Regions from separate parts of the Homo sapiens genome. Here all the other regions are linked to region 1. Evidence: fine-mapped QTL for protein levels in blood plasma. A gene starts in region 1. Each other region holds a variant in brackets. All regions are shown on one strand. Distances are between the middles of the regions.

Region 1 (8,305 bases):
TACACTGGGGTCATGTGGATCCTCTCCCAGTGGCTTGGAACACAGGGACACTAGGTATGCCTGCACATACAAACTCGGAGTAATCAGACAAAATAAATATGTCCCTTGAAAGTTCAGTTACTGAGAAGCAAAGCATTTTGTTTTTATTTTTTAACTTTTAAAAACTCAGACATTTAAGTTTTTCTTTTACTTATGTGTGTTTAAAGGCAGCCACAACCATCTCTTGATTGGGAACTTGCACAGATCTCATGAATTACCTAAGACCCTTTCTCCTCTTATCATCGTGTGTCCTTAATTATTCATCCACAGATTAAGCACAGGAAATCATAGAATGTTAGGATAGAAAATAACCTTAGCCATGATGTAGTCATGCCTCTTTTATAGATGAGGAAAATAAAATCCAGATATTTTATTTATTTACTTAATGGATGCTTGCATAGAATTTACTATTTCCTAGACATTGGTTAAAGCACTTTCCTAATGTTAATCCGTCTAACCTTCAAAACAACCCTATGAGGTTGGTACTCTCATGCCCATTTTACAGATGAAGAAGCAGAAGGTCAAAGGTTCATTGGCTTACTCAAGGTCACATAGCTGGATTCACACTCAGGCTGTCTGTTTTCCAAACACCCTGCCCTTCTGCCTCTTACCATGCTGGTCGTCCATTGCTCTGCCCTGTAGCTTCTCTAATGGAAAGCGATTGTTAGCAGTGGAGCTGGGACTCGAACCCTAGTCTCCTGACCCCATGTCTTATGTTCGCTCCACTATACCAAAGTTCTACATAACAAGAGGTTAGACACACCATTTTATACAAGAGGGGGGCTTCAGAGGCTTAATTAGAGAAGTGATGAAAGCTATAATTTGAAAGAGAATTATAGGTAACTATCAAATAATTTTCTTGTTCACAACCCTTGTAGTTGATCAATTTAAAAACATGCTTTCTGGATTCAGTTTTCTCCTTGAAGATTTGAGGAGATAAGCTTCATCAGTTAGCTTTAGGGGACTCTAAGCTTCCAATGCTTCCCTGTATAACAGAGGTTATACTTGTTTCCTAAAGTGTGGTCCATGGACCAGCAGTATCAGCATCACTTGGGAGATAGTTAGAAATGCAGAATCTCAGGCCTCACTCCAGACCTCCTGAATCAGAATCTGCATTTTAATAAGATTCCCAGCTGATTCATGTGCACGTTATAAATTGAGAAACATGGCAGACTACCCCAGAAAGTGTCAAAATGGAAGCCTAGAAGCACACCATTCTTACAGAAAACAGTTGGGGGATGGGAGTACTGCTCCACAAGTCCCAACCATAGCAAAATTATGAGGCACAAGAATTTGGTCCTTGACTCAGTACCTGCTCCCATCTTCCAAGTTGCATTTCCCTTTCCCCTGCGTGTCCTTTAAAAAGTTGTCTTCCCCAGGGTACCCTCTTGGGTTTATTGTTTATTCTGCATATGTTAACTCTCTTTTTCTTTCCTACCTGATATAGTCCAAACCTCCATTTCCAGATGAAATTTCTCTCATGAGCTCCAGATCCATAGTTTCAACAATGTACCAAAAACCTCTGCTTGGGAAACCACTTTATTGTCTCTAGTACTTCTATGTTAAAATACTCAGAACTGGGCCGGGCGCGGTGGCTCATGCCTGTAATCCCAGCACTTTGGGAGGTCGAGGCTGGCAGATCACTTGAGGTCAGGAGTTTGAGACCAGCCTGGCCAACATGGTGAAACCCAATCTCTACTAAAAATACAAAAATTTAGCCGGGCATGGTGGCACGTGCCTGTAATCCCAGCTACTGGGGAGGCTGAGGTGTGAGAATTACTTGAACCCGGGAGGCGGAGGTTGCAGTGAGCCAAGATCGCACCACTCACCACTGCACTCCAGCCTGGGCGACAGAGCAAGACTCGGTCTCAAAAAAAAAAAAAAAAAAAAAAAAAAAAAAAAAGAAAAGAAAAGAAAAACAAAACAAAAAATATCCAGAACTGAACACCTTGCTCCATCCAAAGCCTCCCACGTCCTGTATCTCAAATACCCTTAACAATTCCACCATTGACTCAGCCTCCCAAATTAGACACCTGCTCTTCTACCTTGATGCCAAAGTCTTCTTTAAAAATTATAAATCATATTATATTACTCCCTACTTAACCTTACAGTGATTCATAATCACCTGCAAAAGTAGGTCCAAACTTCTTCCTGTAGATTGCATCCAAAGCCCAGAAGGGTCTGGTTTCTTCCTATATTTCAGATCGCCATTTTTTCCGCCTTTGATCCCTCCTTCCACCACTGTACCCCTATCCCCTCCAGTATTCCTCCAGCATACTAAGCCTGAACATGCCTTTCCTCCGTGTGTGACTGCTCAAACATCACTCCCTCTGTGAATCCTTTCCTGGATTTCTCCTCCTCCCCCTTTCTGTGTTGATTTTATAGTTTTTACACTTTTATCCTTCCATATTTCAAACAGTTTTGTAATGATTTCTTTTCATATCTGTGTGATAGATTTGAATCCTTGAGGAGAGGGAGTCTGCCATTTATTTGTCTTTCATCTTTATGTCTCTAGCTTCTAGCACAATGTCTGTCATTTAATGGGCATTCAGTACATAATAGATAGGTAATTGAATGAATGGATTTAGATGCCTGGGTGTTTTCTTTCTACTTGTATTCTATTCCCCACATCCTCTCCAAAGATTTCAGCATCATCAAGACATATTATCCTGTGTCTTCCTTCTGAAGATTTAAATTATAGTGATCACCAAATCCATGTTGATATGATAACAATGGTTAAGAAGTTTGAATATGTTATTTTCTCTAAGCAATACAGTTGTATATTAATCAGAATCTCCCAGAGAAAGCCCCTTAGAGCAGGCAGTTCCATAAAAGGAATGTCAGGAACTTCTGCAGGCTGGATGAGGACATACACTGAGTGAACAAGTCTGTCAACTGCTCTAAAGACACTGTCAATGCCATATAAAAGCTGGCCTTGTTCATCTAGCAGATCATGGGGGTGAGACAGTCCAGTGCCTCTCTGCCCCTACAATATATGAAGAAAGGGGAAGAAACACACATTGCCTCCTGGTAGATTAGGGGAGGACTTCTTGTACATTTTTAGCAAAATCCGAGTTCAGACCCAGCAATTAGACAAAAGGGTCAGCAAACTATGGTCGATGGGCTACATCTGCCCACTGCATGTTTTTGTAAATGAAGTTTTATTGGGACACAGCCATACCTATTCACTTTTGCATTATCTATGGCTGCTTTTGCACTTTGATGAAAGAGTTGAGTAGTTGAGACAGACACTGTTTGACCCACAAAATCTAAAATACATACTATCTAGCCCTTCCTAGCAAACATTTGCCAACCCCTAGAAAACTTTTAAAAAATGATGCTCTTCGACTTGAAATTTTTATAATCTTCTGTTTATTGTCAATAGGTGCTGCTGATTTTCAAAAAATGACTTAGAATCCTCAAATAAGTATACAGCCTTATATGCTGCTTAGACACCAAAGCTATGATAAGATTTGTCAGTTCTTTGTATCAGATGGGTTCAATTCTTGACATCAGCTAATGTTATAAAAATAACTACAAAATTGGTTGTAATAGAACCAAATCTAAGACTCTTTTTAATAAAAAAGATCACCATTGCTGGTGAGAAACCTATACTGAATGGGTGAGATGCCATTGCATTTATCTGAAGTTTCGTCTTTATAATCAATAATCATATACAATCCTAGTCAAGAAACTCATCTTACAGTCCTTGGGGATTGAACACTGTGAAAATAAACTTTTACTCTTCGGATGTGCTTGGATTTTGTTTTAAATTAAGAACTACAGAAATATATATCATTTCTAGTGGTAGAGGAAAATATTGCCACCCAGAACTTTCTGAATGTCTCTTTCTGCCCTAGGTCCATTTGTGATGAACACCAATGAAGAGATTTCTCAAGCTATTCTTGATTTCAGAAACGCAAAAAATGGGTTTGAAAGGGCCAAAACCTGGAAATCAAAGATTGGGAACTAGTGGAAAGCGGAAGAGCAGGTCTTGATGTGTCCTAGAATTTTGCCATTTCTGAGATTGAGCCATTGAAGGCATTCCATTTCTAAAGCTTATTTAGCCGGTGCTTCTAAAGAATTCCACACTAACGTGATAACATGGTTTTTGTAACAATAAATGTAGGATATTTCCTGGCACATGCAAATAAACCTAATCATTGTTTCTTTAAAAATCAGTGTTTTTCATTTGAGATACCTAAGTTACTAAGCTTCTGTTTAAAAAGTCGTTTTGTGTATGTTTGCCTTTTTTTGCATGTATGGATGGATGTTTTTATTATTTTTGTGCATGTGCAGGTTTTAAAAATCATATTTGATTGCTTTCTGTGTGTCATTGGCAGCAGATGCATGAGCATCTGAGGTCCCTTCTTAAGCAATCCCACTGAGATACAAAGGTCAAAGCTATGTGCTGGGGTTTCATGTTACAGGTTATCTGCTTTAAAATAACGGCAGCCCTGAACATTTGAGTCAGTTCTTAAAACTGCCCTGCTATTGGTAGGGACGCAACAGGATTACAGCCAAGACTTCTCTGCATTTTCTGCCAAAATCTGTGTCAGATTTAAGACACATGCTTCTGCAAGCTTCCATGAAGGTTGTGCAAAAAAGTTTCAATCCAGAGTTGGGTTCCAGCTTTCTGTAGCTGTAAGCATTGGTGGCCACACCACCTCCTTACAAAGCAACTAGAACCTGCGGCATACATTGGAGAGATTTTTTTAATTTTCTGGACATGAAGTAAATTTAGAGTGCTTTCTAATTTCAGGTAGAAGACATGTCCACCTTCTGATTATTTTTGGAGAACATTTTGATTTTTTTCATCTCTCTCTCCCCACCCCTAAGATTGTGCAAAAAAAGCGTACCTTGCCTAATTGAAATAATTTCATTGGATTTTGATCAGAACTGATTATTTGGTTTTCTGTGTGAAGTTTTGAGGTTTCAAACTTTCCTTCTGGAGAATGCCTTTTGAAACAATTTTCTCTAGCTGCCTGATGTCAACTGCTTAGTAATCAGTGGATATTGAAATATTCAAAATGTACAGAGAGTGGGTAGTGGTGAATGTTTTCATGATGTTGTACGTCCAGCTGGTGCAGGGCTCCAGTAATGAACATGGACCAGTGAAGGTAGGTGAGCTCAATTTTTAATGTGATGAAGTTCTTTTTATTGGCTCATACAGAGGACTTTCTTTGCCCTCACTATTTTTGAAACAATATAAAAATGCAGAACCATCCTAGTAGTGGACTGGACAGGATATATCCTGCATTTCTTGGTGACTGTTCTGTTTCTTAGTCTTATTAAACTTCTGGCCATGAGTATTTGAAAATGCTGGGGTGGGGGTTGGTTGTTTTTTGAAGTTATGGTAGAACATGAGCAGTCTGGAATCTTTTTGGATGGAGAAGTTTCTCCTCGGTTGCATATGCAGATGGCACAGTGGTTTTTTAATGAAACATTGATTTGTTTTTATGACTGATAACTTTGTGGGCCATTTATTTTCAGGTCTTTGTGAGCAGCAGAGGTTAGTTTATTCGTTTGGTAAATTGAAAATTGCAGTGCTTTCTATGAACATTTTCTATCTGCTTTTGCAAATTACCAATTGCTGCCATCCAGAAAAATGTTTTCTCAGAGAGTGTTTGGTTTTTTCGCTTCTTGAAAGGTGTAAAATTCAACACTAATCAAATCTTTGGTTCTGTGAGCAAGCATCAAATAGAGCTTAACGAACAGAGAGTAATGCAAAAAATTAACCAGAATGTTGCTGACTGCTGGAACAATACTTAGCCCAATTTTATGCATTTCATGGATTATATATATTTTAAGCTTCTATTTTGAAAATGATTCGGATGTAATTGTTTTGACTGAAGTGGTGCTAAATCATTATTGATTTAGGAACTTCTGGCCTTGAAAAGACAATTAAATGTGAGTTTGAGTTTTTGTAGCTGTTGTTTAGGACGTGCATTTTCAACAGGGGTGATATCGCCCCCAGCAGGGGAAAATTGGTTCGTGGAGGGATGAAAAAGTTTTACCCTTTTGATACATCACGCACAGACGTACATACAGTACATATGGTATGTAGTTTAAAATACGTTATACATTCAAATTGCATAGGGGGAAAGTGTCTTCAAAGGCTCCTGGCTGGTGTTGGTGGCCTGGCGAGGGTGGGGGCTGATATTTAAAAATGTTGAACACTGAGCTGGAGGTGAGTGGGAAGTCACCTTGTCTGGCAGCCAGCACTTTTCTAACTTCTCAAATTCCAAATTTACATGGGAGAAATCACAGTGTTTGGCTCCATTTTACTGCCACCAGCCTTGATATTGGATCTCAAGGCCAGATTGTAGGTAAATGGGAATCTGACTGTAAGCATAGGTAACAGGAGAAAACGGTCTGACTTGTTTGAAGCAAGTAAGACTTTTCCGACTGTCCAGCTTTTTCGTAAGTTCATGAAACAGAAATCCTTTAGATGTGCTGGGCTCCTCGAGTTTTAAAATATTTCCATTTTCCTTGTAAAACATCACTTTATCTGATGGTATAATAAAGGAGACTGAATTGTTGGACATAAGTCATATTCTTTAGGTTGCTCAGCTCTTTCAAAGAGCACAAGCACCAAGAATGTCTCAGGTGTCCTGGGCACTGTGAAGTTTTATTTATTTATTTATTTATTTATTTGAGACGGAGTCTCACTCTGTCACCCAGGCTGGAGTGTAGTGATGCAATCTCAGCTCGCTGCAACCTCTGCCTCCCGGGTTCAAGTGATTCCCCTGCCTCAGCCTCTCGAGTAGCTGGAATTATAGGCACGTGCCACCATGCCGGGCTAATTTTTTGTATTTTTAGTAGAGACAGGGTTTCACTGTGTTAGCCAGGATGGTCTCGATCTCCTGACCTGATGATCTGCCCGCCTTGGCCTCCCATAGTGCTGGGATTACAGGCGTGAGCCACCGCGCCCGGCTGGCACTGTGAAGTTTTAAATGCTTTGAATGTACTGTTAATATATAAATTTGTTGAATGGAGTAACGAAGGAAAGCAGCTGAATTTGCATGTGACAGAAAACAAGTTGTTACACGTGGAGGATGCAGCATTATATACTTACTAATACGATTAGCAATTTTTTTTCAGAATATATCAGAATTTCCTTTAAAAAGTGAAGCTACATATACTGAACTTATATCCACCCTACCCCTCGCTCAATTAAATTATTTCTGATATGAAGGAAAGGATTGCCTATAGCTAAACAGAAGTTTTGGCATAGATATGACTGAGTGGTAAGGGATAATGAGATATATAATATTGGTTATAGTTTTCTTTTTTCCCCAACTTTTAAGAAAAGAAAATCTAAGAGGAAATAATGTTTCTAAATGTTAAAGTTCTTCTTGTTAAAATTAAAATGTAGTGTGAAAACATATTCATGGTGGTAATGGTTTAGGGTGGTGGTATTTGAATTTTTTGTTTTTTTTTTTTTACTTTTTGAAATAAAATGTTTTATTTATTATAAGAAATTCATGGTCTTCCTCGGTACTTGGTCCATATGTATTTCTTTCTCCTCACCCTCCCCTCTTCTAACCACCTCTTTTCCAGAATGGATGGTGATGCCAATTTTGCTCCTAGGTTGTCCTCCAGCCACCCCCAGCCCAGTTTTCACTTTCTAGCTTTGAAGATTGTCCAGTTTTCCAGCTTAGACTAGCATTGCCTCTACGATAGTTCTAGGTATCTGTGAAGATTTTTTTTTTTCCTGTAGCAATCATGAAATAGCTACTAGTGCTCTGGACGATTGTGCTTAATGCCATTTGGGTGTAAGGCCTCCTAATTTCATTAGTCTTACCACTTGTGTTTGCAAGGATAGCTGTTTGGAGTCAGCAGTGCATGGAACATGTGAACTGAGACAAATCTGTTTGAAAATCTCAACTTAAGATTTCAAATCCACTGTGTATACTATTTAGCTGTTAAGTTTCTCAGTCTAAGAAGAACACGTTTTCCTCTAGAAATAAGCTTAACCCAGTACCTATGCATCGTTCATTAATATAATCAGATTACGGCCTAGATGTGGAATTTATTTCTGTTTCTATTTTCTCCAGCTTTTTAATACAGCTCAGACAGTCATATACAGTTGTACACGATGTGCACTGCACAACTCTAGGGTGCTCCATGCATATAGACATATCTGTATGTGACAGCCCTAAGTACAATGTGGTAGACACTCTGGACATTTGGTAAATAAGTATCTACATCCTCACTCTTCTCTCATTCACATTGGCCTTCTGGCCAGCACTATTTCTGGTTT
Region 2 (8,000 bases), 26 kb before region 1:
GAGGTAAGGATTATGATTACCTCATTTTTCAGATGAGGAAACTGAGGTACAAAGAGATTAAGTAACTTACTCAATATCAATTAGTTAGTGAGTAATGGGACTGAGTTTCTGCTAGGACTCTTAACTGCCATCTTGTCCTGCACCAAACAAAAACATGGACCTTTAGTGAACAGTACTCTATTAGTAGTGTCTTGGGCATATTGGTAAATAAATCCAAGATTTTGTACATAGGTTAGAAAAACGACTATTCTTGAAAATTTTAAATGAGTAATATCATCTCATTGTGTTGTGTTTTTCTGTTATGTCACCTTTAGGAGAAAACAGGTTAAATTGATGATCAATGTAAACTAAAAACCTATTCTAAGAATTTAAATATGTTTCAATTTTGGCAGGGGTGTATTTTTTTTCATATTTTACAGGGGCTTTTAAAAAATATTTTTCTCAGGCTGGGCATGGTGGCTCACACTTGTAATCCACACACTTTGGGGGACTGAGGCCAGGAGTTCGAGACAAGCCTAGGCAACAAAGTGAGACTCTGTCTGTAATTTTGAAAAAAGGCCTCTTTCTCTTAAAAACAGTTAGGTGTCCAAATACATCCTGAAGTAATCTTAGGGTTATTTATGACTTTCCCTGCTAATTTCAGGTTTCTATTATTTTTTGAACATGTATTTAATCCTTAAAGTTCTGTATATTTCAGATCTTAATAGTCTATAAACGTGGCTTCAATCTAAGTTCGAATGCCTAAACTAGTTTCTGTTTTAGAGTGCTAAAATAGAATTTTATGATTATGTCTACATTATTTGAATTATTTTCTGATTTTTTTTCTGAGCAATTAAAAATCAGTTGTGAATACTGTGTGTCTGAAGAGGAGACAAGTTCTGTTCAAATAAAACCAAGAAATAGTAGTAGCATATATTACTTTAGTTAAAAACTTTATTAAATGTCTTGATGAGAAAACCTCAATGCATCATTGTGCACTTAGTCTCTAAAGAGCAGGATACAATTATTATGTGTCGATTTTAAACTTTTTTTAAAGAACAGGATAAGCTTCTAGGGCATTCTAATAAGCTTCTAGGGCATTCTAATACATTTGTAGTACTATTGTATTAGCAAGAAAATAATCAGCAGGGTTTGCCCTCCAGCGGGCTAGGCTTCATTCTGGGCATGCAGAAGGCTGTATTCTGAGTTTACATTCTAGAGAGCTTATATTGCTTATATATTTCTCATTCAAAATGTTAAATTTCATTTATTTCTTAGCTTTCCTGTTAGCTTCTGATGCAATGAGTGTTCAGTATTATGAATGTGGACCAAACCATAAGACAGGGTTCTCCTATAGGCTGCAATTGTGCTTACTTAAAATATGGGATCCTGAGGGATGGCTCTTAATGTTATATGCCCATGGCTTATAAACAGCCTGTAGTATGATCGTTCTGTAATGTATAAAGTGCATTCTGAGTCTATTTTATTCTGGAAAACTAACTGTCTCAAGTGTTTTGATGTGTATACCATTTTGTTATATAGTTTGGCATTTTATTATTGGTGTCACTCATCAAATTTGGTAAAACGGGCATTCTCATTTTTTTCCAATGGAATTCTCACAAGTTCAGGTAATAACCTATCTCTCAGATTGTGGAGTTACAAAGTTGACATTTCTTTATCTTGCTGTTTATATTCAGTTATAAGATGGGGGTTAAATGCCTATTCTTGGCAAGCTAGTAGATCTTACGGTGAGCTGTTACTTGCTGTATGATCAGACAACCCAACTTATGTCACCAATTCTAGTCTGCAGTGTTTGGTGGGACACAGACAGCATCCTTAATGCCATGAGGTTCTTGATGAGGACGTTTTGGGAGACGTCGCAAAAATGTAGACTTCTTTTGGGAAATGATGACCCTGCTGAGCTTTGCTCCGCAGTCGAAGAGACTAATTGGCTTGGTGTGAGGTGGGTGCAGCAGGGAGCTTAGGGCCATCTCCATAGCAATGACCCTTCTCTGGCCTGGGTCACAGCCTCATCAGAATTGTGTAACGTCTCCACATGCACAGATTTGAAGGAAAGTGGAAAAAGAAGAAAGGGGCAGGAAAATGAACTGATATTTGTTAAATACCTCCTAAGTGCCTGGCATTGTGTAGAGAAGATTAAAAACATATAACACACATATGTATGTACAGATGTATAAGGACATTTATATATGTTTATACAGACATACAATAGAAACAGTATGTTTGATGTTTCCTCATTAGACTGTG[T/C]TCATCACAACAGCTCTGTGTTATACGTATTCATTCCTTATTTTACAAACCAGCAAAGAGGCTTGAAGAGATGAAGAGTCTGGTCCTAGATCTCCCTGAGGGTGATGCACTGATGTTGAAACAGGAACTTTCTGCCTGTAATGGTGTGTGCTCATTTTTGTTGCTGTTTCATGGTTGCTTAGTTGGTTTGTTTTCCGTGGTTCTCCACAAAGCCTCCTTTAAGGTTTGCTGCTGCGCTTTGTTTCCCCACTCCCCAAGAGAGAGTTGCATGGATAGAATTAAATATGGAGGCGGGGCAGGCAGAGAGGCCATGATACTGGAGAAATGTAGGACCATATTGAGAAGAGTTTGTCTGTCAGAAGTTTGGGCTTGTCCTGGGAGAACAGGGAGCCATTGAAGGATTTTAAGTGGAGATTCTAAAAAGGTGCAATTTACGCGTGTAGAAAATGGATTGGCAGCAACCAGTTAGGGGACTTTTTTTCACCTGTATGGTTTTTATCTTAAAGAAAAGATAGATATGAAATAAGTATGGCAAACATATATGTTCATTATTTCATCCTTTGTGCTCTTCTGAATTAAAAATTAAAGTATTGAAAATAAATGAAAATTCTCTAAATCTGGGAGGGACAGGGATTAGCAAACAATTCAGTCTAACGAAGAAACATCAAATAAACCCAAACTGAGAGGCATTCTATAAAATAACTGGTCTGTACTTTTAATGAAAGAAAAAGACTGAGGAACTGTTTCAAATGAAAGAAGATTAGACATGACAACTAAGTGCAGCGTGTGATCGCAGGTTGGGTCCTGGCCTAGAAATTTATTTCTCCTTTTCCATAAAAAGCATTACTCAGATGACTGACACAATTTGAATATCCGTACATAGATAGTAGCATTGTATCAATGTTAATTTCATAATTTCCATAAGTGCACTATACTTTTGTAAGAAAATATCTTTGTTTTTAGGAAATACATACTGAAAATTATTTCAAGGTAAAGGGGCTACATGTCTGCAAATTACTCTCAAATAGTTCAGAAAAAAAAAGAATGACATATATTTATAGCAAGAAGAATGATAAAGCATATATGTTAACATGTTAGCTTTGGGGGAATCTAGGTGAATGGTGTACAATAATTCTCTGTAGTATTTTTGCAACTTTTTGATATGTCTGAAATTATTTTAAAATAAAAATTAAAAAGAATTTGGTGGAAGGAGGAGCGGGAGGGAAGAACCAGGCAGGTCTGCCTCTTGTCCTAGGAGGCCAGGGTTGAGGTCCTAGATGAAGGAGTTACCTGCCAAAGCTGATGTGGGGACTTCCGGTGGCGGGGGGGAGGTTGCGGGTATGGGAGGAGGATCTTAGGGACCAGGGTTGCTTTGCGGTCTGGCAATTATGTGATCCAGAGTTTGTGAAGGGTTGCAATCTCTCCTTAGCCCAGTTGCCCTTATCTCTGTTAATGGTGTTGGTGTGTCACCAGGCCGTGTTTTTCTATTTTTTCTGCACATACAGGTGTAAGGAATACTTGTAAGTTCATTGGAATAATGAACTCCAAGACTGAGGCAGAAGGAAAATGACCCGGGTTAAGGCAAGGAATGTAGGCTGAGGAAAGCTCTCACTAGGGACGTTTGCAAGAATTAGGAGCCTCTCTGGAAATGAGAGCAACTGCCACAGAAAATGATTTACATATTTTTTAAAAGTTTTGGGTTTTTAATGTTTGGCTAAAGGAGGTCTGACTTAAAATGCGTTGCTGACTTAACTGTCCTAGGAGGCCAGAACGAAAATGTGACCTCCCTCCCAGCTCATTTTATTCATCACTGCCCAAGGGAAGGGAAGAGCTTTTCAGCTGCAAAGAGACAGTAGCTTGCAGACCATATTTGTAGGAGAAAGGAAAATGTAGCAGGGTGTGAACTCTGACAAAGCAATAAAAATTGGGGGATGACATCAATTCTTGGTGCAGGACATAAAAGTGGGAGGAGAGGTGAGGGAAGAAAGAAAGATGAGAAGGACCTGAAAATCTGACAAGAGATCTCTTCTGTGGCTGTTGTTAAACATATAGTAAGCATTCATGAAATTTGGCATTTGTTTTCTTTTGCAGCAAGCTGAAGAAACAAAGCTTAGTGGAAATTAAACAAATTAACAGAAGCAAGTGCAGATGGGCATCATGCTAAAAAGAAAGAAAAAAGTAAATTGCCTTCATTTCTATTCCATGCCCTCTAACACTCTGTGCTTTCCAATCAGCAACATGAGTTGTGTTATTACTGGCAAAGATGGACACTATATCCTAGCAGAAGACTTTTACAAGGAGTAAAAATATATGAACACACTTAGTAAATTGACTTAGGCCATTCCTTTAAGCAAATGTTTGGTCCTTCCAGATCATGTAAAAAGATAAAAAAGGAAAAAAAACAGATCTAGGCAATTATTTGTGGACTAGATTTCTGCTTGAAGGGTGAACAGGAAGCAAAGCAGGTGGAGGAGAAATGAGATTAGAACAATCAAAATGAACTCAAATAAAAGCCTGGTTGAACTATTGAGAGTTTTGAGGTTTTGTCAAATGTGGTAACCACTTTTTAATACCTTTAAACCGTGAATAGAGGATTCGTTGTATAAATTATGACATGTCCTTACAATGGAATGCATGCAGTTTTTCCCAAGGATGAGTTACTTCTCTATGTTTTGACATGGAAAGGTATCCAAAATAGAATATTGAGTTAGTTCTAGTTTTTTTGTTTTGTTTTGTTTTGTTTTGTTTTTTTCCGAGACAGAGTCTTGCTCTGTCGCCCAGGCTGGAGTGCTGTGGCGAGATCTCGGCTCACTGCAACCTCTGCCTCCCAGGTTCAAGCAATTTTCCTGCTTCAGCCTCCCAAGTAGCTGGGATTACAGGCACGTGCCACCACGCCTGGCTAATTTTTGTATTCTTAGTAGAGACGGGGTTTCACCATGTTGGCCAGGCTGGTCTCGAACTCTTGACCTCGTGATCTGCTCGCCTTGGCCCTCCGAAGTGCTGGGATTACAGGCGTGAGTGACCGTGCCCAACCTGAGTTAGTTCTAGTTTTTAAGGAAATAACTTATAGTGCATAAAAGAAAAAAAAAACTGAAAACACAGATACCAAATTGCTAACAATATTTATGTCAGGGTAGGAATGAAGATTGCAGAAAGATTTTCAGTTTAGATGTCCCACACTTTCATATTCTTAAAATATTTTTAAATTAATGTGTTTTTTTATAATCAGAAAAAATGAAGCTATTGGTGCTCTGAAAAAGAAAAACAATTGTGGCGAAACTTTTGAAAAAGCAGAGAAGAAAGGGGTTTGGTTGTAGAGTATGATTACAAGTCAGGCTAAATAGAAGTAGAAAAGCTCAGCATTCATTAGAAAACAAAGAAAGAAGTGCTCCAGCAGAGCCAGCCCATCCAGATAAGACATGGGATCTGGCTGTAAATTATTAGTGTGTGTTTTCAGCATCTACCATGGACCTCCCCCCGCCAAAGGTGCACAATTTGCACACCCCGGCTATGCCTTATTCATTTTTGTATCTTCCTCTAAAGTACATGCCCATGGTAGATGTTCAGTAAATGATGGTAGACAAAGCTCGGAAGACTAAATATGAGTGGGTTAAGATGGGAGAAAAACGCCTGTAATCCCAGCACTTTGGGAGGCCGAGGCGGGTGGATCACGAGGTCAGGAGATCGAGACCATCCTGGCTAACATGGTGAAACCCCGTCTCTACTAAAAATACAAAAATTAGCTGGGCATGGTGGCGGGCGCCTGTAGTCCCAGCTACTCGGGAGGCTGAGGCGGGAGAATGGTGTGAACCCGGGAGGCGGAGCTTGCAGTGAGCGGAGATCGCACCACTGCACTCCAGCCTGGGCAACAGAGTGAGACTCCGTCTCAAAAAAAAAAAAAAAAAAAAAGGGAGAAAAACGAGTAAGCTATGAATAAGTAACATTACTTTCAGAGAGCTTAAACTCATTCTAGTAAAATCTCAGAGAGGAAAAACTGTGAAATAGGGGGATGGGAAAATATTCTCTGGCACTTGCTCATGTGTGTTTGTTTTGCCATCCTTCAGATTTTCTTAGTGAGACTTAATTTATGTTTTCTCAGTTATAGCTTTTCTTTTGTATCCAGTTGAACGTTTCAAGCCATCTGCCATGACAGTCATATCTTTGGAACATATTTTGGCCTCCTTGCTCCTTCTGCACTCGCCTTTGTTTACCCTGTCATCACGCTGACTCCTCCAGAGACTCCAGTGTGGGCTCTGTCCTTCCAGCATTGAACTGTGCCCTGCATTCTCTTTCCAGATCTCCTTTTCCACTGAAGGCACATGGAGGGATATCATGATTCCATTTCGACTGTGCCTTTTCTAGGTTCATATCTCTCAGTGGAAACACAGCATCTCTTCTGAGCCATGGGTACAATATATAAACATCTATGAAAATCAAGTGTTGGTGCTGAGAGTGCAAATAGCCTATTGTGAGTGATTTTGATTTCTTGGCCCCATGGGTCATGGTAGGAATCTGGTGAATTCTATATACTCTCTTTCCAGAAAAGTGTACACACTTGAAAAACTGTGAACAATTCCAGGGAGTTCACAGGCCATCCTGGAGCCCATTTATATCCCTAAGATTATGTATTCCTGCATCCCTGGAACTGATGCATATTCTGTTAGGATAGAATAAAAGAAGGAGTTCACTGGAACCAGAATGCAACTAGAATGCACTGGAACTAGAATGCAACTAAGTACAAAAAAGCAGGCCGGGTACGGTGGCTCACACCTGTAATCCCAGCACTTTGGGAGGTCAAGGCGGGCGGATCACCTGAGGTCAGGAGTTTGAGACCAGCCTGGCCAACATGGTGAAACCGCATCTCTACTAAATAATTTTATAAATACAAAAATTAGCCAGATGTGGTGGCGTGTGCCTGTAATCCCAGCTACTAGGAAGGCTGAGGCAGGAGAATCGCTTGAATCTGGGAGGCAGAGGTTGCAGTGAGCTGAGATGGCACCACTGCTCTCCAGCTCAAAAAAAAAAGCATATTTCTAGCATCAGCTTCACACTTCAGACACACTGGAGGCACAACAAATGGAAGATAAAGCCAGACTGGAGTGTTGCAGTTACTATCATAACATTACAACTGGAAGGAATAGTTTGTTTGGTAATACAGCTTGTAGCCTATAGATACACAGCCAAGTGAATTGTACACTGTACTTTGGGTGCTTCTTAAATATTTGGGACCAAGTCATTTAGGTTTAGGGGTATGTCTGTGTTTGTGTGTGAGAAAGAGAATGAGTGTCAGTGTATATTTTAAACAGTTCACAGAACTTAAATCTTAAAATGTCTATCTAAAGGGAAAAAAAGGATTTCGTCTCCAAATTTATCTTTGTGTTTGTAATACGTATATGTCTTTGTTCCTTTTGGCATTATGGACACTAACATGTTAATGTTGCTGGTCCTTTCCAGGGTGGACAAGCTTCATTTACACGATATCTGGAGATGTGTATATTGGTAAGTTATGGCTGTGTCACTTAGGGCTCAATTGCAATTTAATTTAAACTACTGAAGGGAGAAAAGGTAGGATGACACCATTTTATGTAATTGAATACTATGCCACCTTCTCTCCTACACTAGCCCTCTCTATATCCCAGCACAGGTATGCCCAGGGCAGGGTGCCTTTCAGCTTACAGAACATTCAGTGAGGGAAGAGAATATGAACACCAGTCATGACACATCCTGTGCACAGATGAAAGTCCAGGCACCAT
Region 3 (8,000 bases), 35 kb before region 1:
AGGATTTCATTCTTTTTATGGCTGAATAATATTTCATTGTATATTTATATCACATTTTCTTCATTCATCTATTACTGGGCACTTAGGTTGATTCTACGTTTTGTACATTGTGAATAATGCTGCAATAAACATGGGAGTGTAGGTATTTCTTTGATATATTGATTTCTTTCTTTTAAATAGGTACCCAGTAGTTGAATTGCTGGATTATATGGTAGTTCTATGTTTAGTTTTTTGAGGAACCTTCATACTGCTTTCCATAATGGTTGTACTAATTTACATTCTCACTGACTGTATACAAGGGTTCCCCTTTCTCCACATCCTCACCAGCATGTGTTATTCCCTTTTTGATAACAGCCATTTTAACTGGGGTGAGATGATGTCTCGTTGTGGTTTTGGTTTGCATTTCTCTGGTGATTAGTAATGTTGAGCATTTTGTTCATACACCTATTGCCCATTTGTATGTCTTCTTTTGAGAAATGTCTATTCTGAGCTTTTGCCCATTTTTAAATTGGATTTCTTTTTGCTATTGAATTGTTGAGCTCCTTATATATTCTGGTTATTCATCCCTTGTCAGATAGGTAGTTTGCAGATATTTTCTCCCATTCTGTGGGTTGTCTCTTCACTATTTTTTTTTTTAAGACAGAGTCTTGCTCTGTCACCCAGGCTGGAGTACAGTGGTGTGACCTCTGCTCACTGCAACCTCCACCTCCTGGGCTGAAGCAATTCTCCTGCCTCAGCTTTCCAAGTACCTGGGATTACAGGTGTGTGCCACCACGCCTGGCTAATTTTTGTATTTTTAGTAGAGATGTGGTTTAACCATGTTGGCCAGGCTGGTCTTGAACTCCTGGCCTCAAGTGATCTGCCTGCCTCGGCCTCCCAAAGTGCTGGGATTACAGGCGTGAGCCACCGCACCCAGCCTCATGTTATTGATTGTTTCCTTTGCTGTGCAGAAGCTTTTGAGCTTGATATAATATCATTTGTCTATTTTTGCTTTGGTTGCTTGTGCTTTTGAGGTCTTACACAAAATATCTTTGTCCAGTCCAATGTCCTGGAGATTTTCCCCAATGTTTACTTGTAGTAGTTTCATATTTTGAGGTCTTAAATTTAAGTCTTTAATTCATTTTGATTTGATTTTTGTTTATGGCAAGAGATAGGGGTCTAATTTCATTCTTCAGCATATGAATATCCAGTTTTCCCAGCACCATTTATTGAAAAGACTGTCTATTCCTCAGTGTATGTTCTTAGCACCTTTGTCAAAAATGAGTTCCATTGATCCATGTGTCTGTTTTTATGCCAATACCATGCTGATTTGATTACTATAGCTCTGTAGTATAATTTGAAGTCAGGCAGTGTGATGCCTCCAGCTTTGTTCATTTTGCTCAGGATTGCTTTGGCTATTTGGGGTCTTTCATGGTTCCATATAAGTTTTAGGATTCATTTCTGTGAATGAGATTGGCATTTTGGTAGGGATTGCATTGAATCTGTACATTGCTTTGGGTAGTATTGTCATTTTAATGATATTAATTCTTCCAATCCATGAGCACAGAATAGCTTTCAATTTTTTTTGTGTCCTTTTCAATTTCTATCATCAGTGTTTTATAGTTTTCCTTGTATAGATTTTTCAATTCTTTGGTTAAGTTGATTCCCAGGTATTTTATAATCTTTTTTTGTAACCATTGTAAATAGGATTGCTTTCTTGATATTTTTTTCAGATTGTTCACTCTTGGTGTATATAAATGCTACTAATTTTTGTATGTTGATTTTGTATCCTGCAACTTTACCAAATTTGTTTATTAGTCTTAATAGGTTTTTTTTGGTGGAGTCTTTAAGTTTTTCTTAGTGTAAGATGATGTAATCTGTGAACAAGACTAGTTTGACTTCTTCCTTTCTTATTTGAATGCCCTTTGTTTTTTTTTTTTCTCTTGCCTAGTTGCTCTGGCCAAGACTTCCAGTATTATGTTGAATAAAAGTGGTTAAAATGGGCATCTTTTTCTTGTTCCAGATCTCAGAAGAATTCAGTTTTTCAACTGAATTCTTTCAATTTTTTCCCATTCAATATGGTGATAGCTGTGGGTTTGTCATAATAAGGCCTTTATTATTTTGAGGTACGTTCATTCTATACCCAGTTTGTTAAAGGTTTTTGTCATAAAGAGATGTTGAATTTTATTGAATGCTTTTTCAGCATCTATTGAAATAATGATGTTTTTTCTTCTTGATTCTGTTAATGTGATGTGTCACATTTATTGATTTGTGTATGTTGAATGTTGAAACATCTTTGCATCCTTGGGATGAATCACACTTGATCATGGTGAACAATCATTTTAAGGTGCTGTTGAATTCAGTTTGCTAGTATTTTGTTGAGAGTTTTTGCATCTATGTTCATCAGCAATATTGACTTGTGGTTTTCTTTTTTTGTTGCGTTCTTGTCTGGTTTTGGTATCAGGGTAATGCTGGCCTCATAGGATAAATTTGGAAGTACTCCCTCCTCTTCAGTCTCTTTGAAGAGTTTCAGTAGGATTGGTATTAATTTGTCTTTAAATGTTTGGTAGAATTCAGCAGTGAGGCCATCAGATCTTGGGCTTTTTTTTTTTTTATGGGAGACTTATTATGGCTTCTATCTCATTACTAGTTATTGCTTTGTTGAAGTTTTCTATTTCTTCATGGTTCAATCTTGGTAGGTTGTATGTATCCAGGAATTTATCAATTTTTTCTGGGTTTTCCAATTTCTTGGCATATAGTTGTTCATAATAGTCTCTAATGATTCTTTGTATTTCTATGGTCTCAGTTATTGTGTCTTCTTTTTCATTTCTGATTTTATTTATTTGGGTCTTCTCTCATTTATTCTTAGTCCAGCTAAAGGTTTGTCAATTTTATTTATCTTTTCAAAAAACCAACTTGTCACTTCATTGATCTTCTGTATTTTTTTGTCTCAATTTCATTTACTTCTACTCTGATCTTGATTATTTCTTTCCTTCTACTAATTTTGGATTCCATTCTGGCTATTTAAGTACAGAAAAATTTTAGATTAATTTGCTTAAACATAAGCCTTCACTATCCGTGATTTTTATAACATTAAGTGTATGTGTGCTTTAACCTTTTAGTGCAGTGCTTTTATCTTTAAACTTTTGAGTTGCTTTCCTCCAATCCCTTGTCCTCCCTTATCTATGTCCAGTACCCTCACTATATAGATCACAGATATATCCTTGAATTATATCTTGCTGTATTTTTCTCCACACTTATTTTTATACACTGACATATATGTGCATTCACATATATGCAAATATCAGGTTATTTTGTCATTTTAATAAAATGGAATCATAACTACTCTTTTACGTCCTATTTATTTGACTGAAAAATACTCATGGAAATCCTTCCCAGTTTACTTATATAGCTCCTTTTGTTTTGTTTTGTTTAAGAGACAGGGTTTCTCTGTGTCACCCAGGCTGGAGTAAAGTGGCACAATTATAGCTCACTGCAACCTCGAACTCCTGTGCCCAAGAGATCTTCCCACCCCAGCCTCCCAAGTAGCTAGGACTACAGGCACTCATCATTAATGGTGGCTCCTTTTAACAGTGATATTCTACATCATCTAAATACATACTATGATGTATTTAGCTATTTTCTATCAATGGGAATTCACTTTGTTCCTAGTGCTTGGCTACAGCAAACTGGTCTGCAATGAATACCTTGTGTATCTGCCTTCCCATGTGGAAATTTATTTTGATGAGACAGGTTTCCAGGGATGGTCACCAGATCTATGCATGCTTAGTTTTAAAAGACATTGTCAGGTTGCAATCCAAAGAGGCAGTCACACTTTCTATTAGCAGCATATAGAATACCAGTTTCTCCACAATCCCACTAGCAGGAAGTGTATGGTTCATGTTCATTTTTGCTCTGCTCTCAGACATCACCTTATATTGCCTCCTGAGAGAGAACGTATATCTGTCAGTTTCCAAAGCTGTATTTGCATTTTATTTTGTCATCATGAATTTTAAACCTGAGATTTGTTTTCAATCATGTTTTGTTGTTGTTGTTGTTGTCGTTGTTGTTGTTTTGAGATGAAGTCTTGCTCTGTCGCCCAGGCTGAAGTGCAGTGGTGTGATCGCGGCTCACTGCAACCTCTGCCTCCCAGGTTCAAGTGATTCTCCTGCCTCAGCCTCCCGAGTACCTGAGACTACAGGCGCATGCCACCATGCCTGGCTAATTTTTGTATTTTTAGTAGCGACGGGGTTTGACCATGTTGCCCAGGCTGGTCTTGAACTCCTGACCTCAGGTGATCCGCCCACCTCGGCCTCCCAAAGTTGGGATTACAGGTGTGAGCCACTGCGCCCAGCCTCAAACACTTTTTTTTTTTTGACACGGAGTTTAGCTCTTGTCGCCCAGGCTGGAGTGCAATGGCATGATCTCGGCTCACTGCAACCTCTGCCTCCCGGGTTCAAGCGATTCTCCTGCCTCAGCCTCCTGAGTAGCTGGGATTACAGGCACCCACCACCACGCCCAACTAATTTTTGTATTTTTAGTTGAGATGGGGTTTCACCATGTTGGCCAGGCTGGTCTCAAACTCCTGACCTCAGGTAATCCATCCACCTCGGCCTCCCAAAGTGCTGGGATTACAGGCATGAACTACCACACCCGGCCTCAAAAACATTTTTATAGGGATACAACAGGAAATAGCTTAGAATTGCACATTTAGCATTGAGCGTCTGTAAACCCACTTTAAACAAGTGCGTTATGAACCCAGCTATGAAGCAAAAGATCCTTTCTTTTCCAATACATCACTTTTAGTTATAGTGTTCTCTCTTTCTCAGTCTGTCTGTCTGTATCTCTCTCTCTCTCTCCCTCCCCTATCTCTCTCTCTGTCTTACACACACACACACACACACACACACACACACACACACACACACAGACTTATCCATGCTTCCACTGCATTAGGTGACAAATACAAAGTTTGAGGCTTCTCTGTTTAGTGCCTAACAATTAATTCAAGTATTATAAAGCACTCATTATTTGCAGCTTTGATAGTCCTGGCTGCCTGTCATCAGACATACTGGATGGTAAAATTATGCTGTATAAAGTTTATTATGAAGTAATTCAAATCAAGGTCACCATTTGTCTTTTTTTTTTTTCCACCTTTCCAGGTCAAATTCCATCATAAACTCCAAGGACTGTCTAGATTCTTTTTATTTGGGTGCTTTGTTGTATCAAATATTTCGTGAAATGTGTAGGCCATTGGCTGGGTCCTGGACATGTTTCGTTTATAATGTTTTGATTGTTTTGTTACTCATGGTAAAGGGATTTGACATGGATGTCTGGATTATGTTTGGCTTTTGGCATAAGCTTTGCAGTCTAACTAATTTAATGTTGACTTGGTTTTATCATTAACAGACTAATTGGATAGCAATAGAAGCATACACTGCTACCATCCTCTCCCTGATACTGGGAAAATGCATATATTCCAAGGGAAATCCAGTTAAGGGAGACTGAAAACGTTTCTCATGAATCAGACTAGGTTTTATCTGAGTTCCTTCCCATGAATACTATTTGAATCGATTTTTACCATCTCTTTATTTCCTTCAGGCTAGGCACGTTTCTCTTGGGTTGTGCTAATCTTGCAGAAAACAGATGTTTCATGCAGTGATGATTTGGAAGGCAGTTGATATCAGGAATTGAGCTGGACGGTGCATCACTTACAAAGAATCTAATTTGTCGAGTTTCTGACAGTACCAGATTCCTTTCACATTGGCCACA[C/T]GTTTTTTATATTAGATCTTGGCTAAAATAAGAGTAAGTAGTTTTTTAATGGTGACTTTTACCATTTCTTGCAAGGCGCAAGGCAATCTGACTTTCCTTTTGCTGTAAACTGATTTACAGATAACACTGTTTGTTACCATTAATTATGAAGGACATAAATCTATATTTCTAGGAAAATATCAGTCTTTTCCAAGAAACATGTGCCTTCTTGTCCTCATGTCCCCCTTGTCTTCTGACTGACTGTATCACAGTTTGGCCCTCAACAGCCACTCTGTTTATTTTCCTCATTTCCTTTTACAGCACCTTTGCCTCTAGATACTTAAAGGCAGGATCTGGAATGTTAAAAATGGAGAGCTGTTATGGAAAAAACTTGATTTTATGAACCTTTTTGCTTTTCCTCACCTTATAACTTTTCCTTTACAGTATATGTAGATCAATAAACAAAATTTATTTAGAAACCATATAGTCTACCCCTCTGTGGTAGGCAAAATAATGTCCCCCCAAAGATGTCCACGTCCCAGTTTCCAGAATCTGTGTATATGTTATGTTCCATGGCAAAAACGACTTTGCAGATGTGACTAAGTTAATGCTGCTGAGATAGGGAGATTAGCCTGGATGATGCAGGTGGACCCTGTGTCATAAATGAGAATCTAAATAAGAGAAACAGGGAGACAGGGAGTCAGAGTGAGAGAAGGACATGTGACAATAGAAGCAGAGGTCAGAGTGATGTGATTACTGGTTTTGAAAATGGAAGGGCCCACAAGCCAAGGATTAGTGGCAACCTCTAGAAGTTGAAAAAGGCAAGAAAACAAATGTCCCCCTACAGCCTCCAGGAAGAATACAGTCCTGCTTGATTTTAGACCTATGAGGCTCATTTTGGGGCTTCTGACCTCAAGAACTGTAAGATAAAAATTTTTGTTACTTTAAAGCACTAAGTTTTAGAGTAATTTGTTATAGCAGCAATAGGAAACTGATACACCAATATATTTTTGCTTCTGTGTTTATGGGGAAAAAAAAGGAAAGGAGCTACATCTTCCTTGATTAAAAAGTAGATTTTAATGCCATACATACAGTAGCTACTTGGTAAGTCACATTAGTATACATTTAAATAAATCTTATTGTATTAATTATCTATATGCTGCATAACAAATTACCCCCAAAACTTTGTGCCTTAGAACAACATGTATTGTCTTGCAATGTCTCTCAACTTAGCTGTGTACTGTTACAAGGCCACGATCAAAGTGTCAGCCGGAGCTGGCGCTGCGGCTCACACCTGTAATCTTAATACTTTGGTAGGCTGAGGTGGGCAGATCACTCAAGGCCAAAAGTTTGTGACCAGTCTGGCCAACATGGCAAAACCCCATCTCTACTAAAAATACAAAAATTAGCCAGGCATGGTCGTGCGGGCCTATAGTCCCAGCTACTGGGGGTGGAGGGGGGCGGGGATTGGCTGAGGCATGAGAATTGCTTGAACCTGGGAGGTGGAGGTTGCAGTGAGCCAAGATCACCCACTTCACTCCAGCCTGGGTGGCAGAGCTAGACTCTGTCTCAGAAAAAAATAAATAAATAAAGTGTCATCTGGGACTGTGGTCATCTCAAGGCTTGACTGGGAAGGATGTGCTTCCAAGCTCACACTCATGTGGTTGCTGGCAGCATTCAGTTCCTCAAGGGTTGCTGGCTAGAGTCTGCTCTCTTGTTTTTGGCCACATGGGGCTCTATATAGGGCAACTCACAACATGGCCTCTGACTTCATCAGAAGGCACAAAGATGAGCAAGTTGGAAGCCAGAGACTTTATGTAACCTAATCTCAGAAGTGACATTGCATCAGTTTTGCTATATTCTACTGGTTAGACGCAAGACTCTAGCCACAGCCCATACTCAGAGAGAGGGAATTATATAGGGCAATACGGGAGGCAGGATCAGGCAGACGTCTTAGAGTCGACCTCCACACTTATGATCTTGGTTGAAAGTACCACACATTTTTCCATATGGTCAATGACTCGAAAACAAGTAGTGATTTTTTTTCTCTCTCTCATTTGTGACTTTTAAAAATGACTGGAGTAAACCTCGAAAAATGCGTAGTGATTTTTTCCACAGGCTTCTTGCCTGTTTTTTCATAGTCTTTCTCTACTTTTAAGGAGAATGCCCCAAACATGAATGATTCATGTAGAATTTTACATTTTGAGTCTTTTCATAGAACGCAAAAGCCGATTTAATTCATGAGTAATTTTTTTGCAGAGCTCTCTACT

Alleles and levels. Alleles are on the strand shown, and positions count from the first base shown. The strength of an association depends on the size of the effect and on how common the allele is.
As copies of T replace C in region 2, the plasma level of the protein whose gene starts at base 4,603 in region 1 goes up (moderate association).
In carriers of allele T in region 3, the plasma level of the protein whose gene starts at base 4,603 in region 1 tends to be higher than with C alone (strong association).

What was found. PIP is the posterior inclusion probability: the model's chance that the variant is causal. The UK Biobank Pharma Proteomics Project read protein levels with antibody pairs (Olink). The fine-mapping took linkage between variants from a reference panel, not from the people measured, so its PIPs are less certain.
Region 2: its variant is fine-mapped to the plasma level of the VEGFD protein (UK Biobank, PIP above 0.99).
Region 3: its variant is fine-mapped to the plasma level of the VEGFD protein (UK Biobank, PIP above 0.99).

The regions. Positions count from the first base shown.
Region 1 is chrX:15,380,711-15,389,015 of GRCh38, reverse strand. VEGFD (vascular endothelial growth factor D) reads left to right here and starts at 4,603. Exons shown (of 7, transcript NM_004469.5): 1 at 4,603-5,159. The coding sequence starts at 5,070. PIR (pirin) reads left to right here. Exons shown (of 10, transcript NM_001018109.3): 10 at 3,900-4,217. The coding sequence ends at 4,012. The region is part of intron 9 of PIR-FIGF (PIR-FIGF readthrough); the gene reads left to right.
Region 2 is chrX:15,407,252-15,415,251 of GRCh38, reverse strand. It overlaps PIR (pirin), which reads left to right. Exons shown (of 10, transcript NM_001018109.3): 7 at 7,702-7,746. PIR-FIGF (PIR-FIGF readthrough) reads left to right here. Exons shown (of 15, transcript NR_037859.2): 6 at 7,702-7,746; 7 at 7,870-8,000. Among named protein-coding and RNA genes, the nearest start is that of VEGFD, 27 kb to the right of the region's middle. The variant T/C (reference allele first, on the strand shown) is at 2,248.
Region 3 is chrX:15,416,252-15,424,251 of GRCh38, reverse strand. All of the region lies in intron 6 of PIR (pirin), which reads left to right. The region is part of intron 5 of PIR-FIGF (PIR-FIGF readthrough); the gene reads left to right. Among named protein-coding and RNA genes, the nearest start is that of VEGFD, 36 kb to the right of the region's middle. The variant C/T (reference allele first, on the strand shown) is at 5,752.